2 separate regions of the Homo sapiens genome follow, and region 2 is linked to region 1. Evidence: fine-mapped expression QTL. Tissue or cell type: whole blood. Region 1 holds a variant in brackets; the other region holds the start of a gene. All regions are shown on one strand. Distances are between the middles of the regions.

Region 1 (8,201 bases):
CTAAATATGTCATGCTTTGCCATCCCTCTGTACTCCCTTCAAACAATCTTCTCTTCCTGGAATGTGTTTCCATCACTTCATAGCTGGCTTTTTTTTTTTTTTTTTTTTTTGAGACAGAGTCTTGCTCTGTCGCCCAGGCTGGAGTACAGTGGTGCGATCTCGGCTCACTGCAAGCCCCGCCTCCTGGGTTCACGCCACTCTCTTGCTTCAGCCTCCTGAGTAGCTGGGCCTACAGGCGCCCGCCACCACGCCCGGCTAATTTTTTGTATTTTCAGTAGAGACAGGGTTTCACCATGTTAGCCAGGATGCTCTCGATTTCCTGACCTCGTGATCCGCCCGCCTCGGCCTCCCGAAGTGCTGGAATTACAGGCATGAGCCACTGTGTCCGGCCATAGCTGGCTAACTCTTAACTGCCCTCGGGATGTAACTCAAACAGCACCTCCTCTAAGAAGTCTTCACCAACATTCTCCCATCCTCCTCCCCCAGAGCAATTCAGACATACTTCTGATATAGCAATGATCATACTTGATTATAATTATTGGTCACCTGCTCTTAACTAGAAACTTCCTGAGGTCAGGAATTGAATTTGCTTATGACATATGAGCCTTCATCACAAAGGCATTCTAAGGTAGTTCCCAGTTATTTTGAGATTCAACAATAAAATTCCAGAAAGTAAAGAAAAATTTTAAAAGGAACTATTCAACATAAGGGCATTGTTAAATAAGTTGTAAGTGGCTGGGCACAGTGGCTCACGCCTGTAATCCCAGCACTTTGGGAAGCCGAGGTGGGTGGGTCACCTGAGGTCAGCAGTTTGACACCAGCCTGGCCAACATGGTGAAACCCCGTCTCTACTAAAAGTACAAAAATTAGCCGGGGCGTGGTGGCATGTGCCTGTAATCCCAGCTACTCAGGAGGCTGAGGCAGGAGAATCGCTTGAACCCAGGAGGCGGAGATTGCAGTGAGCCAAGATCGTGCCACTGCACTCCAGTCTGGGCGACAAGAGTGAGACTCCGTCTCAGAAAAAAAAAAAAGTTATAATTACCTGCTGGATGGAATATTATCTAGACAATTCAGAGATAATTTAAAATGTAAACACCCCTTCTATGTAGCCTAAAATAAAATCAGGATTAAAAATCTATATGTGAACATTTTATAGTTATGCAAAAAATGCACATGAGCAAAGATATAAAGGGAACATCACAAAATTCTATTGTTGTTTCATGTTGACATTATGAGTGATTTCTGTCCTCCTTTATATATTTTTAGCCTTTTTTTTTTGTTTTGAGATGGAGTCTTGCTCTGTCGCCCAGGCTGGTGTGCAGTGGCGCAGTCTCAGCTCACTGCAAGCTCCGCCTCCCGGGTTCACACCATTCTCCTGCCTCAGCCTCCCAAGTAGCTGGGACTACAGGCACCTGCCACCACGCCCGGCTAATTTTTTGTATTTTTAGAAAAGACGGGGTTTCACTGTGTTAGCCAGGGTGGTCTCCATCTCCTGACCTCGTGATCCGCCCGCCTCGGCCTCCCAAAGTGTCTAAAATGGCCGGGCGTGGTGGCTCACGCCTGTAATCCCAGCACTTTGGGAGGCTGAGGCGGGCGGATCACCTGAGGTCAGGAGTTCAAGACCAGCCTGAACAACATGGTGAAACCCTGTCTTTATTAAAAATACAAAAAAAATTAGCTGGACGTGATGGTAGGTGCCTGTAATCCCAGCTACTTGGGAAGCTGAGGCAGAAGAATTGCTTGAACCCGTGAAGTGGAGATTGTAGTAAGCTGAGATTGCGCCACTGTACTCCAGCCTGGGCGACAGAGCAAGACTCCCTCTAAAGGAAAAAAAAAAAAATAGAAAATGAGGCGGGGCTTGGTGGCTCATGTCTGTAATCCCAGTTCTTCGGGAAGCCAAGGCAGGCGGATGGCTTGAGCTGAGGAGTTCGAGACCACTCTGGGCAACGTAGCAAGACCTCATTTCAGTTCTAAATTAAAAAAATATATATAGATATATATGTAAGAATAAATGAAAAATGTAAAAAGAAACTTCCAAAGAGCTTCAGGGTATTACCACAACCTTCTGGAAGCAGGACGCTCACTCTGCAAGTAGCAACACAAGCCCCTTAGGCTGGCACAAGTAGTGGGGGTGCTCCTGGGCTCACTAATGAGCTCATGATGGCTGGACCAGCCCTATGCAGGTCAAGAAAGTACTTGCACCAAATACACAGTTCACTAATGGTATCTTACAAATCCTTGTGATCTCTTAAAAACAGTCCCTTGTAAACAGTAACCAGGAACTAAATGCACACAGATCGCCAGCACTCGGAATCAATTAGCCACAAGCATTAAAAGGTCAAAACAAGTGCAGTGAGTCATTAAGTAACTTGCTCAACCCAGTTTGCAGTTCTGATGGCAGCTGAGTTAAGAATTAAAGAGCAGAAAGAAAGGAAACACACACAAAAACTTCAAAATGAAAGTTTCCACTTTCACTTGAGAGAATCAACCTCCTATCCTGTTATATTTTCAGTCCTTGGCTAACTTTAAACTCCCCCTACCAGTTTGAAAATAATGTATGCTAACTTTAAATTCTCATACATTACAAAAGTATATAAAATTAAGTACAAATGCCCTCATTTCCCCAAGTCTATCTCCTAGAAGTAACAACTGTTAAGTTTGTTCTAGCTCTTTCCAAACTTTTTCCATGCATTTGTTAACATTCATAGAAAACTGAATTTTTTTTTTTTTTTTTTTTTGAGATGGAGTCTCGCTCTGTCGCCCAGGCTGGAGTGCAGTGGCACGATCTCGGCTCACTGCAAGCTCTGCCTATTGGGTTCACACCATTCTCCTGCCTCAGCCTCCCAAGTAGCTGGGACTACAGGAGCCCGCCACCAGGCCCAGCTAATTTTTTTGTATTTTTAGTAGAGATGGGGTTTCACCATGTTGGTCTCGATCTCCTGACCTCGTGATCCGCCTGCCTTGGCCTCCCGAAGTGCTGGGATTACAGGCGTGAGCCTCCGCGCCTGGCCGAGAATGTTTTCTCTTTCTACTTGACAGTATCTTGAGGTGAAATTTACATAACTCAATTACTTTTTCGTTGTTGTTTTTTTGGAGATGGGTCTTGCTCTGTTGCCCATACTGGAGTGCAGTGGTGCAACCATATCTCACTGTAACCTCAAACTCATGGGCTCAAGTGATGCTTCCACCTCAATCTCTTGAGTAGCTGAGATTATAGATGAGTGCCACCGCTAAGCAAGTGCCTGGCTAACTTTTGTATTTTTGATTTAGTAGACATGGGGTCTTGCTGTGTTGCCCAGGTTGGTCTTGAACTTCTGGTCTCAAGAGATCCTCCCGCCTCAGCCTCCCAAACTGCTGGGATTACAGGCATGAGCCACTGTGCCCAGCCTACAATTAACCATTTTTTAGTGAACAATTCAGTGCTATTTAGTATATTCACAAGGTTGTACAACTACCATCTCTATTTAGTTCCAAAACATTTCCATTACCTCAAATTCACGTATTCTTTTTA[A/G]TGGCTGCAGAATTAGTATCCCTCCCATAGTCTGGACAGACCTATTGATTTAATCAATCCACAACTGATGGACATTAAAATTGTTTCCAGTGTCTGGCTATTACAAAAAGTGCCTCAGTGAACATGCTTTGTGTATTTGTGCTGATACTTCTAAAAGGCAGGAATTCCTTAAGTGGAATTCCTTGGTCTAAGAAGTATGAACATTTTAATGTTTGAGATGTACCACTAAGTTGACCTCCAAATAGGCTATTCAACTTTATATTCCTCAGATAGGTACATAATAGTACACTTTGCTCACACTCTCATCAACAAGGTATTATTATCAATCTGATAGGTTAAACAACTATACCTTAATTTCAGTTTTGTGTTTTGAAGGTAAGATTGAGCATATTTTAATTAATTTATTTAAAAATTTCCCAGAGAGTTGGAGATTGTCTTCTGCTGCGGCATGGGAAAAAAGAGAGCAGTAAGCTGTACTAGGTGAGCTCTACCACTATGAATTTCTTGCTTTGCGTTTCCCTAGTGATTGCTGGGCTCAGGGTACTATGGGGGATATCACAGAGGGTCTTTTATGCGCTTTGCCTACACGTAGCACTTCTGATATATTCTCTCTGATTCTCACAACCACCCTGCAAGTTGGGGGTTTATTCCCATTCTACTGAGGAGGAAACTGAGGTTGAGGGAGGCTAAGATTCAAAACCAGATCTGGTTCCAACAGAGCCTGAGCTCTTTCTACTTTGGGGACTGCATCTACTGTTTACATGCAAGACATGCATTTTGGGGAAGTTTCAATGAGATGGGATCCAGCTCCTGCCTTCTAGGAATATAAATCTACTTAAGGAAAGAGAGAGAATACATTTGCTCAGTTTTAGGAATAATGGCTGATATCTGACCAATCAAATTTCAAATTTACACCTTTAATTAGGCTGGATTAAAAGAAACATTTTTTCTTACTCCACTCAGAAGGGACTGGATGTTGAAAGAAGAATCCCAAGGGAGGAATAAAGAATGCCAACCATTTGTCCAGGTGAGGTTACTGACACCTGTAAGTCTAGCAATTTGACAGGCTGAGATGGGAGGATTACCTGAGGCCAGGAGTTTGAAACCAGCCTGGGCAATGTAGCAAGACCCTGTCTCTATAAAAAAGAATAATAATAAAAGAATACCAAACCAGTGAGTGGTCAGCAGCCGTCTGGCCCCGGGGAAAAGGGGCAGCAGCTGGTATGGTCTGGGGACAGCACATGGGTGATGGGCAGGTGTTCATAACAGCACTGACCACATACCATGAGCTACCCCTGAACCCATCATCAGTACCACTGGGAAAAACTACATGAGAGAACTAGAGTTGAGGGAGGAACAGGCAACTACTACTAGAAGAAAAAAACTCCAAGAGGATGCCTCTTTAGAGAGAAGAACAGCCACATCCCTATCAGCATCCCTGCCACTGTCCATCTACACACCCTCTGCCCTTCTCTTTTTTTTTTATATTCAACATGTGCTGTATTTATAGGTTTGTTTGTTTCTTTCATGTCTATTTCCTTCCAATAGAAGGTAAACTCCTTGAAGGCAGGCATATCTACCTCCTCTATTCACTGATGGATTCATCAGCAACTGATATAGTAAGACCTCAACAACTTTTGCTTAATGATTAAATGTTATGCTTGCTATGTGCTGGGCACTGTGAGGGGAGCTTTAGAGCCCTGCTTATCTGAGAGGTAAGGATTCTGTCCCCTTTACAGACAAGGAAACTTGAGGCTCAGAGAAGGTGACACTTTGCTGAAGGTCACACAGCTAATGAATGGTGCTTTATTATTTAAAACCCGGTGGTAAGGTGACTGTCAGAATGACAATCCAAGTCTGGTCTATTTCAGGCCAACCTCCCTGCCCCAATATTTAACCAATATCCTACCCTAATTGCCCTAGGATAAGATTCATAGTGTAGCGGGGTACATGTGCCCAAATAAATGAACTGTAGTTTACTTCTTGGCCTGTAGAAAGTTTCTCAACCTGGCCACCACAACATTTTGGACTAGAGATTCTTTATTGTGGGAGGCTCTCCTGTGCATTGTAGGATATTTCGCATCATCTTTGCCCTCTAACCACCAGATGCCAGCAGCACAGCCAGCCCAGTTATGACAACCAAAACACCTCCAGACATTGCCAAATGTTCCTGGGGTGAGAAACGCCAGTCCACGGTAACTAGAAGAGGCCCACCTCAAAGTGAGGGACCTGGCCTTGGGCAGGACCACATAAAAACAGAAGCACATACATAGATCTCCCTGGGTGTGGGGATGCTGGGACCGGAGTGAAAAATATTCCAGGACAAGCAAGAGTTTCCATGAGGGAATCTGGCCTAGCAAATGAGTCAAAAACTGCAATCTCATAATTGCTGGCAGCTAAAACAACAATGACCATAAAACAGAGATAATGCAGATTGAGGAAATGGTGCTCAAGTTTATGCCCAAGCTGGATATGTGGAAAAGATGCTGCAGATGCAAAACAGACTGTCTGCCGGGGGTTGGGGGACGGGGGTGGCATGTGCGCTTTACACGTGTCAGAGGAAATGTAAACCCAGCAGGTAGACATGATGGGACAGATCTGATTTGTTAATGCCGCCTGTTCAGCGGAGTCCTCCCTTGCCCTTTTCCAAAAACCATTTTCCACAGCCACAGATAACATGCTCCAATAAAGTATTCAAGCCAAGGAAATTCTCCACACTTACCATGCTAACCATATTGCTATTTTGTAGCAGATGGTTTATTATCAGGGATTGGAGGTTGGGGTGGGACTGTAAGAGGAAAAAACTCTCCTATGTTGCCACTGCGGTGGGTTAAACCAAAATGTACAGCAATAATGGCCAGGACAGGAAAATGTTAACCAACAGCATCCTGGAGGAGTCTCCTATGAGGCTCCATTACAGAAATTAATGTTAAGTGAGAAGTAACACTTCCCAGCTGTGTGGTCTCTGTCACATTTGACCCTCATGCTAATCCTAGGAGAGGATGAGTAATTTGAGTAGCAGAGTGGTAAGTGAGTGGCACAAGTTAAGTGTTGGAATAGGAACTGAGTGCAATTGTTTGACTCCAAAACATGGATTTGGGTGAAGAACATAGGCTTTGGAGTAAAACAGGCATGGCTTCAAGTTGATTCAATGGCTGAGAGACCTTTCATCTCTCTGGGTCTCAGTTTCCTCATCTCTAAAAGGTGCATAATAATAAGTACCTCACAAAGTTGTAGTGAGGATTGGATAAGATAAAGTACACAAGAGGCTTGGCCAAGTCCCTGGCACTCGGTCAGCAGGAATGGTAGTTACCTATCATTGTCATACCACAGACCACACTGCCACTATTAGTGCTTGTTTATACGTGCTTTCATTAATTAGCAAACAGCAGACACATCTTTCTGAACTACCTGGGCCAAATGGCTCCTAGAGGGACTTCCATTAGGATAACTCCTAGGGAAAGAAAAGCCCTCAGCAGGACACTGTTGTTTATAAAAGATCTGGAAACAGCCTAAAATGTTCTACAATAGGGATTAAACAAATTACTCTGCAACAATAAAAGGGAACCTTAAACAGTTGTTAAGAAACATTCTTTTTGAGAAAAGCTTAATGATAAGGAGAGAGCCTCACATGCAGAGTTAAGTGAGAGAAGAAAGATCCCAATTTGAAATACAACAAAATGTTAACAAGGTTTACACCCCTGGATGGTGGGACTACGGATAATTTTTGTTTTCTTTTTAAAATTTTATTTATTTTTAATTTTTTGATTTTATTTTATTTTTTTTTGTAGGGACAGGGCCTTACTATATTGCCCAGGCTAGTCTTGAACTCCTGGCCTCAAGCAATCCTCTTGTTTCAGCCTCACAAAGTGATGGAATTACAGGTGTGAGCCACTGCACCTGGCTGATTTTTATTTTCATCTTTTAATTCTCTACATTTATTTTCCAGACTTTCTTTAATGAAGAAATATTAACTAAGAAGAAACACGGTCAGTTGACGAACATGAAAGACAATGAACACTGAGTTAGAAATGGTGCAATAAACATAAAACCACATATTTACAATCTGATTCAGATTGATGCACATTAAAACCATGGTAAAAGGGCACCCAATTAATTCATAATCAATAAATGTCAAACCTCAAAGACCCAGTACAACAAGAAACCCTTCTGTAGCTTGGAGATATTCTGAGTAGAATGAATGAAAAGCTGAAGAAAATATTTGGCTTAGGTGTAGAGAAAATATTATACAATTTGCATAGTGCAAGTCCAAAATTAGGAAGGCTTCCAGAGGCTTGGGGCAGTAGCTCAACCATCTTCATTGGGCACCATAAAATGGCTTTTGCATGAGAATGTTAATGACAAGATATTCCACAAGCTGAAATGGAAATGATGACTCTCCCTGCCACAGAAGGTGAACAGCAGTGAGGTGGGATGCTCCAACTCAAAAGTCTGGTGACTATTTTTAAATCCTGCCAAACTTCAGGCTTTATTATGACCAAACTTTGACTTTTTGTGATAAGCCTACGGCAGGAGAGGCACTCTGAACACCCTACGGAATCCCAGCTCTGGCACTTACCAGCTGTGTGACCTTGGGTACAATTTTAAACTTTCAGATCTCTCCCTATAAGTGGTGATGAATCCTATCTTGCAGAGTTTTGGAGAAGACGATATGAGGCCATGAACATAA
Region 2 (8,176 bases), 42 kb after region 1:
GAAGTAGATGACCAATAAATACAAAAACAGATAAACTGAACAAAGCTGCATCAAAGATCAGAAGAAATAAACTTAATGCTCGTATCATATCACATTTTTCTGTGAAATTCTAGAGCCATGAACTAAGCTCCTTAGATTTCACAATTAATGATTACAGCCAGCAGGACCTCACTGATTATGGATATTAAAATTAAACATTTGCCAACCAATTCAAACCCCCATGTCATAAGAAATAGCAGATTAAGAGGCAGTATTATACTAACAGACATGCAATATTATAATCCCTGTAGAATATTTTCAAAAGCTTAAAATAGATCTTTTAAAGAAAATAAAAATACATTTTAAAAATATCATTTTTTGCTTTCACTGGAAACTACCACAAATAAAAAATTACAAATCACTTAAATCTTGAGTAGAAATTTTATTTGCTTTTAAGAGAATGCTTATTTTTGCATATTTTTTTACTCAGTGTACGGTATCAAATGCACATCAATGCCACTTGCCTGTTCCCCAGGAGCCTTTTCCTAAGTGATTTTCCCCAGTACACTTGCTGCAAGGATAGGAGTCAATGCTAGAAGGCACTTCCCAGTGCCATGCTGTGTGCACTGTCCTACCCAAGGCAAATTCGGAAGGAACAGCCATTACACACGGCCATTAAATGTTTAAAGGGCACAGGTGCTCTGTTGCAACGGCCTTTGAAGGTCAACAAGTCCTGTTTTCCTAGAAAGGCCTCTGGATAGATCTATTTTTCTTTTTATTATAACCACATTCTTTCCACAAAGAAAACAATCACTCTTAAAAAAATACTTTCAGAGGAATTAACAGTCAATGCCTAGCTTATAAACAATTATATAATCATGTTTTTCAAAAGGCTGACAAGCGAATGCTATTTTTTAATTTATGAATACTGACGACACCTACTGGTGGAAAATATATTTTAGTTAACTGCTTATGGAGAAGCTAGGCCTACAAGGGTTGGCTGCCTTTTGCGCTGATAAGGAAACCAGAAAACTACCCACTAAACTCACTTAGGTTTCTTTTTCCAATTTTGCCAATTTCCATTATCAGGAAGTGATATGCTCATCGATGAAGCTAAAAGATATCTCTGCCTCAAAGTGTATAAAGCATACTTGATTTAGTGTTTAAATCAAACACTAAAAAACAAAAACCCCAATAGTGATATCTGAAAAATATTTACCAACTATTTCCAAAACTATTCCAACCCCTTCCTTATTTCTCACATCAGGATATCCCCATACGAGGAAAATAAGTCATATTTTATAGTCTAGATCCAGCTACCAATGAAGAAAATTAATATTTGACATGTGATAAGTTTCATATTTGTGATATATAGACATATCTATATTCTATGTATAAGAATAAAATGAAATTAAGCAGGCAAGTTTTACCTAAGCCTTTAGCTAAACTACTCAAAAACACAGGACTAAGTAATAGTAGGAAGGGACTGGTTAGAGTCCTCAGCTATCCTCACTATTCTTTTCTTTGGCCCACTTCAATTTATTAATTTATTGGTTATGCCTTTCTTCCTTACAAGTGGAGTTTGAGTGGGCACCAATTGCGCTGCTCCTATGTTGATTAAATTAGGAAGTTCCCACTGAAAAAATATTATATCCATTCCAGGCCTGACCAACCTGAATTCTATGCAAATGCCACTAGGGCCATCACACTTTCACAGCTGCTGGCAACAAAAACTCTTTGTGATAATATTCGACTGAGCTGGAGTGTAGGGTTGGGTTTGAGTGAGGGAGAAGTTAGTTTGTGCTCAGCGTATAGAAAGCTGAATACAACCAGAGACTGCTTGGAGTCCTGTCAGCCTGGAGCAGCTCTTGCTAGAGGAAATGAATCTTTGATGGTGTGCTCCCGAATATACATGATTCAGTGAGCCAAGTGCATACAGCTGAGCAGACCCAAGGAAGGCGAGTGGGTGGAACCTCAAGAATGCTGTGACAAGGCCGGATGCACACCTGCCTTCAGCCTTTCCCCAGTGGTGGTGGTGATGTTTGATGTTCGCAGAGTGAGGTGTGGGAGAGTGGAAAGCTCCCAGATACACGCATGAGCGGCAATGACTAGCTGGGTCCTGTGGGTTCCACCGCAGCTTGACCACAGCAAAGCTGTAATCTAGCGAAAGCGACTGTATTCCCTAAGACCCTCAAAGAGAGGGATGCTTTCTCCTCCAGCTGAACCCAACCTTTAAGGCCAGTGAGCTATGTGCCAGAGAAATAACACGCAAGAGGAAAAGGCAGACTAAACATAACCTGGGAGCACTCCTTCACATCGCCCGCAAGGCACAGGAAAGTTCCCAGAAAGAGAAATGTTTCCAATGTTCCAAGGCAGCTTTCCATTGACCCTAAGGACTTTAATTCATTTTCAAGATCCATGTGGGAGACACTCCAATTTACTCATTTAGCCCCAGCCCCCCGGCTGAATGACCCTCACTGGCCACAGGTGATAGGCAGAGGCGCTGTGTCCTGTTTTTGCTGCCAAAGGGCTGCAAGGCCAAGTCTGACAGGTGAGAGGGCTGGTACGTCCCTCTGCTCTCACAACCCAGGCAAAAAAAACTCGCTTAAAGGGTAGCGACACTGGGGCTTGCTGACACTTCCCTGACACTGGGGCTTGCTGACAGTAGGAGAAAGTCCCTCTGAGAGTCCAGACAGAAGATGGACAGTCTGAGAGCCCTGCAAAGGCAAGGAGGCAGTTGCTCCCAGACCGGCAGGTAGAGGGACAGGGAGAGAGGAGGCAGCTAGTGCTTGGTCCACAGAGAAAAAGCGAGAGAAAAGGAGACAGGGTGAGAGATGGCGACGGGGAGACACAAAGAAGACTGTGGGAGAGATGTAGAGAGAGAAAGTGGCACACACGGAGAGTGAGAGATGGAAACAGAGACAGTGACACTGGACGGGCGCCGAGAATGGGAGATGGAGGCAGACGAGACAGGCAGATGACCCATAGAGGTCCAGGTGCAGGGCGCGGCCCTACCTCAGCGTCCTTGGCCGGACCGCTGGCCGGGGGTAGCTCCAGGCTGCAGTTCGCTCTCTTGACCGTGAGGTAGAAGGGGTAATCCTTGGCCACCATGGCGGCTGCCGGGCCTGCCCTTTGGGATGTCACCGCTGACCCTAGGCGACTACAAAACTCCCAGGCAAAAGGGGGCCCCAGCTCCACGATGCCGGGCGGCGGCGGCGACACGGAGACCGACAGCCGGCTTCTAGCCGGGCAGGACTCGACTGGGCTCCGGAGCCGAGTGGGCGGGACCGTGCCAGCCACGCCTTGATGGGTGGGGAGGGGGCGGGCCGCCGGCTCGGCACCGCCCCACGCTGCCGGGAGGGCCCACGTGCCGCAGCGCGGACACCTCCTGGGGCTGCGAGGGGCGTGGGGCGGTCCCGCGGGTGGAGAGGGACCTCTCTCTCCCCGCTGGTATTCGACTCCGGGCGCCCCCGCAGAGCGTGGGCCGCGATTGCGGGGCAGGCAGACCCCATGATAGCTCCTTTCGGGCTCTTTGGCACTCTCCGGGTGAAAGGCTGCTGGTAGAAAGGAGGCTGGGGCGAAACCGGGCAACGGGGAGAAAGGAGGCTGTAGTGACACCTGGAGGCAGGAAGGAGCCTGGGGGGAAAAGCGAGCGTTTTAAAAGCCCACATTAGAAAGGGGTGGTGTTCTCTCTTACCCTGTTCCCAGGCCACTGCACGTTTTTTTTGTTTTGTTTTGTTTTTGTTTGGTTTTTTAAATGAATGTCAGTGGAATATAATCTACAAATGGCAAAATGCACCCATTTTAAGAGTACCGTTTGTTGAGTTCTGACAAATGTAAACACCCGTATAACCACCTCCACAGTCGGTATACGAAACATTTCCACCACCCCCGGAAAATTCCCTCGAGACCTTTCCCACTTTGCACCAACTTTTAAATTTGACTAGCATATTCAGAGGCTGCCTGACACTCGAGGGCAATCTGACAGAGTGTCCTTCAAGTATAAAGCTGTGCATGGATGACCTGGCACTACCACACCTTTCTGGATCCTTTTTGGAGAAACAATGACATTATAAATGCCCAAGAAGGCGATTGATCTTAAGGTTGTTTGCAGCAGCCCTGTCTGGGGCAGTAAAAAATAAAAAATAACTGGAAACAATGGTAATATATCCATCAATAGGGAGTGCTTAAATAAACTTTCTTCACTGTGTAATACCGCTTAGCAGCAGTGAAAAAGGAGATGGGTCTATGGGTGTGGCATGGAAAGATCTCCAATGTATTAGACTCAGTTTAAAAATAATTGCAGACTAAGCATAATACAATACCATTTGTGTTAAAAAAAAATACAAGTTTACCAAAGAATATCATATATTTTCTATAAAGACATATTTGTGGGTAAATAGCATTGAACACTGTCTACAAGAATCCACAGCAAGCTTTTACCAGTTCCCCTGTGGCTGAAGGGAGGCACCTGGGTTTAAAGAATTAAAGATAGTGAACAAAAGGGACTTAAGCTTATAGCTCATGTTTTAAAATTTTTTATAAGAAAAATACAGCCTGGGCAGCAGTGAAACCCTGTGTCTACAAAAAAAATACAAAAAATTAGCCAGGGATGGTGGTGCACACCTGTAATCCCAACTACTCCAGAGGCTGAGGTGGGAGGATCACTTGAGCCTGGGAGGCAGAAGTTGCAGTGAGCCAAGATCATACCACTGCACTCCAGCCTGGGTGACAGAGACCCTGAGAAAAAATAAAAAAGAAAAGAAAAAAAGAAAGAAATAGAGGAAGGAAGAAAGGAAAAAGAAAAGAAAAGAAAAGAAAAAAGAAAAGATGGCTAGGTAGAGTGGCTCACACCTGTAATCCCAACACTTTGGAAGGCCAAGGCAGCAGTGTGGCTTGAGGCCAACAGTTCAAGACCAGCCTAAGCAACATAGCAAGACCCTGCCTCTACAAAAAAATTTAAAAATTAGCCAGGTATGGTAGTGCATGCCTGTAGTCTCAGCTAATCCCGAGGTTGAGGTGGGAGGATTCCTGAGCCCAAGAGTTCAAGGCTGTGGTGAGCTATGGTTGCACCACTGCACTCTAGCCTGGTGACAGAGTGAGACCCTGTCTCAAGAGAAAAAAAGAAAAATACCTTCATTCATGGCACTTCTTGGGAAATTATAGTTTTTTAAAATATTATAATTATCATATTTTCTTTCTTTTTTTTTTTTTTGAGATAGGGTCTTGCTTTGTTGCCCAGGCTGGAGTGTAGTGGCATGATCTTGGCTCACTGCAACCTTCTCCTCCTGGGCTCAAGTGATCTTTCCACCTCAGCCTCCCAAGTAGCTGGGACTACAGGCCTGGACCAGTGTGCCCAGCTAATTTTTGTATTTTTGTAGAGACAGGGTTTTGCCATGTTTGCCCAGGCTGGTCTCCAACCCCTGAGCTCAAGCAATCCACCTGCCTCAACCACCCAAAGTGCTGGGATTACAGGTGTAAGCCACCATGCCCAGCCCTAAAATGATCATCTCTCAAAAGTTATTTTGTAGACTGTACTGTTGAATCTTTTTCCTCCTCATGTGGAAAGTCATGACTACATCAGGTGGTGATCTATGGAGACACTATCTTTTGTTTTTACTTCCTGGGGATGCAGGGGATAGTGGGAATGGTGATATCCAGTCCCTGTTTGCGTGCTCTTTGCTTCTAGCTGAGGTCAGAACCCAGCAGTTCCTACTTCTCAGGCAGGACACCTCATAATACATAGCTCTTCATCCCAGGTATCAAATCCACACCCTCACACTAAATCCACTTACTTTCCTACCCAGCTAGTGCAGACAAACTGCCTTTGGAGGCAGAAAGAATTGGGCCCTGTGTAACCAGCCTGTTATTACCACACATGTAAATGAAGCTCCTGAATGGGTGGAGGTTCCAACTGAAATTGAAGAGAGCACCTGAGTTTTTTTCCCTCGATAGATAACCTGAAGCAATAGGAAGAAAACTGTCTCAGAAGAGGTATGGGGCAGGAAAGAGCACCTCAGAACCACTGATTTTTCCTATTTGTATTCCTGAACACAATTTTATCCTTTTAGCCTGAGCTGTGCTGATGGGGAGCTCACACAAGTGCTCCAAAAGCTTAGCCAAGCTTGGTGGGGGTGTGAGAGTAACCTCATCTCCAAGTAGCCCCTGATTAACTATGCAGCCAAAGGCAGGGCCAGAGGCAGTGACATGCGTCACTCAGGGCTTGTCTGGCCACCAAGAACCTGTGCCCAAGTACCCGAGCCACTTCTTATTCCTCTTTCTCTGCCTGCTCTTCTGGCCCTCACAGTCCACTATCTCAACTAGAACACATTTGCCATCAAAGCCACTGGCTTTGACTCCCAGAAGAGCTTGCTGGGCCGTGTTCTCAAGTTGGAAAATATACTTACAGCACTTGGTGAAGAAAATAGTCACCCTGGCGACGTCTGATAGCCCTGGGACTGGGTTGCTCATTGCAGTATCCTTAGGGCCAAGCAGGGAGTCTGACATACCATAAATCCAGTGTAACAGTAAACAAACCCTAAGAAATATGTTTATTTTATTTTTTTGAGACAGGTCTCACTTTGTTGCCCAGGCTGGAGTGCAGTGGCACAATCTTGGCTCACTGCAGCCTCAACCTCCTGGTCTCAAGCAATCCTCCCGCCTCAGCCCCTCAAGTAGCTGGGACTACAGGCACACGTCACCACGCCCAGCTAATTTTTATATTTTTTGTAGAGATGAGGTTTCACCATGTTGCTCAGGCTGGTCTTGAATTCCTGAGCTCAAGTGATCCACCCACCTCGGCCTCCCAAAGCGCTAGGATTACAAGCATAAGCCACTGTGCCTGGCCTCCGAAGAAATGTTAAAGTGCAACTTAGGTTGAAGCACAACTATTGCAGAGCAATGAACAGTCATATTGATTGATGAGAAGGCTGCCGTATCCATCTTCTCTTAAAACATTTCTTTGCTTTCCTTAAAATATACTGGAGCCATAAAAATCAATAAATACACAGGGCTACACAACATATATATGACAAACATACCTCTTTTCCACTATACATGCTAGGCAAAGAGAGACAGACAGAGGCAGAGAGATTACTAATGGCCTGTAACAATTTAAATAGTGCTATAAAAAAGCATAAGCTACAAAAGGAAAGATGGGAATCTGGAATTCTCTTGGGTGGTCTGATTCTTCCAAGCTTCTTATAGCACGAATGTCTCACCATCCAGAATAGGATTCTGGTGTTTAAATACAGATATTTTTGGTACAACAAAGCCTATAAACTCAAGCCAGCAATTTGGGGTGCATACAAGCCATGTATATGGTCCTTGAGGCATTTAACAAATTTTTCAGGAGTATTTTTTTTTAACTTCCATCAGTATATAGGTTAAGGTCAGGATTAGCTATTTCAGGAGTATTTCTGACCTCATGCAATTTCCACCTTGGTCCCTGACTTCAGCACCTTCCCCATATGTAATGCACTGCTCCACCATTGACAGATTGGGGTTTTAGGCAATCTGCCTGAGACACTATCTGGGGGTGTCCGTGAACAAAGACTGTCAGAAAACAGGCACCCCTGCAGGAGGGCCTCCAAGCATATCCCTAAGGTTAGTGTCACAGTTGAGGGAAGCTGGTCCAGTCCTGCAATGCCGCCAAGCTAAGTGGCCCCAGGAGCCCAGAGCTCCCCATTCTGCCTGTGTGTGTGTTTACGGGCTTAGGAACAACACTGCTCTAACAGGCAGCTTCACTCAAAGAAACGGCACAAAGTGTCTTTCAGAACTTGCCTTCGGCATAGCCCGTTATAATCCTATAAAATGCTTCACAGCCGGGCAGTGTTCCTTGCCAGCCAGAAGCCTGGAGACTGAAATAAAGAGGGCTGTTCTGCATTTGCAGGAACTGTGCCAAGCACAGGGCCTGTGGTCTTGCCTGTGTTGAGCGGGGGTCATTTGGGCTGCTGGTGGAATGGTAGGCCTGAATACAGAAGCCCACCACTGGTTATTAGCTCCTTTTAGACTTGCAGACAACCAGGCATGGCTTGGAGACCATCTGTCAACTCCTTAAATCCCAGTCCCATGACTGGGAGCAGAGCAGGCCTAGCCTGAGGATAAAACCAGAAGCTAACATGGCTGTGACAGCCTTCTCAGCCAACAGGACAATGCTTTGTCCTATTAGCGTTATATTTTAACATAAGGAATAGCG

What was found. PIP is the estimated chance that this variant, and not a neighbour inherited with it, causes the effect.
Region 2: it holds the start of ARHGEF3, and the variant in region 1 is fine-mapped to the expression of ARHGEF3 in whole blood (INTERVAL, PIP 0.98).

The regions. Positions count from the first base shown.
Region 1 is chr3:56,756,458-56,764,658 of GRCh38, forward strand. All of the region lies in intron 2 of ARHGEF3 (Rho guanine nucleotide exchange factor 3), which reads right to left. Among named protein-coding and RNA genes, the nearest start is that of ARHGEF3, 41 kb to the right of the region's middle. RefSeq lists an enhancer at 6,495-7,372. The variant A/G (reference allele first, on the strand shown) is at 3,512.
Region 2 is chr3:56,798,709-56,806,884 of GRCh38, forward strand. It overlaps ARHGEF3 (Rho guanine nucleotide exchange factor 3), which reads right to left and starts at 3,241. Exons shown (of 10, transcript NM_019555.3): 1 at 2,995-3,241. The coding sequence starts at 3,090. RefSeq lists an enhancer at 827-876 and a silencer at 3,241-3,410.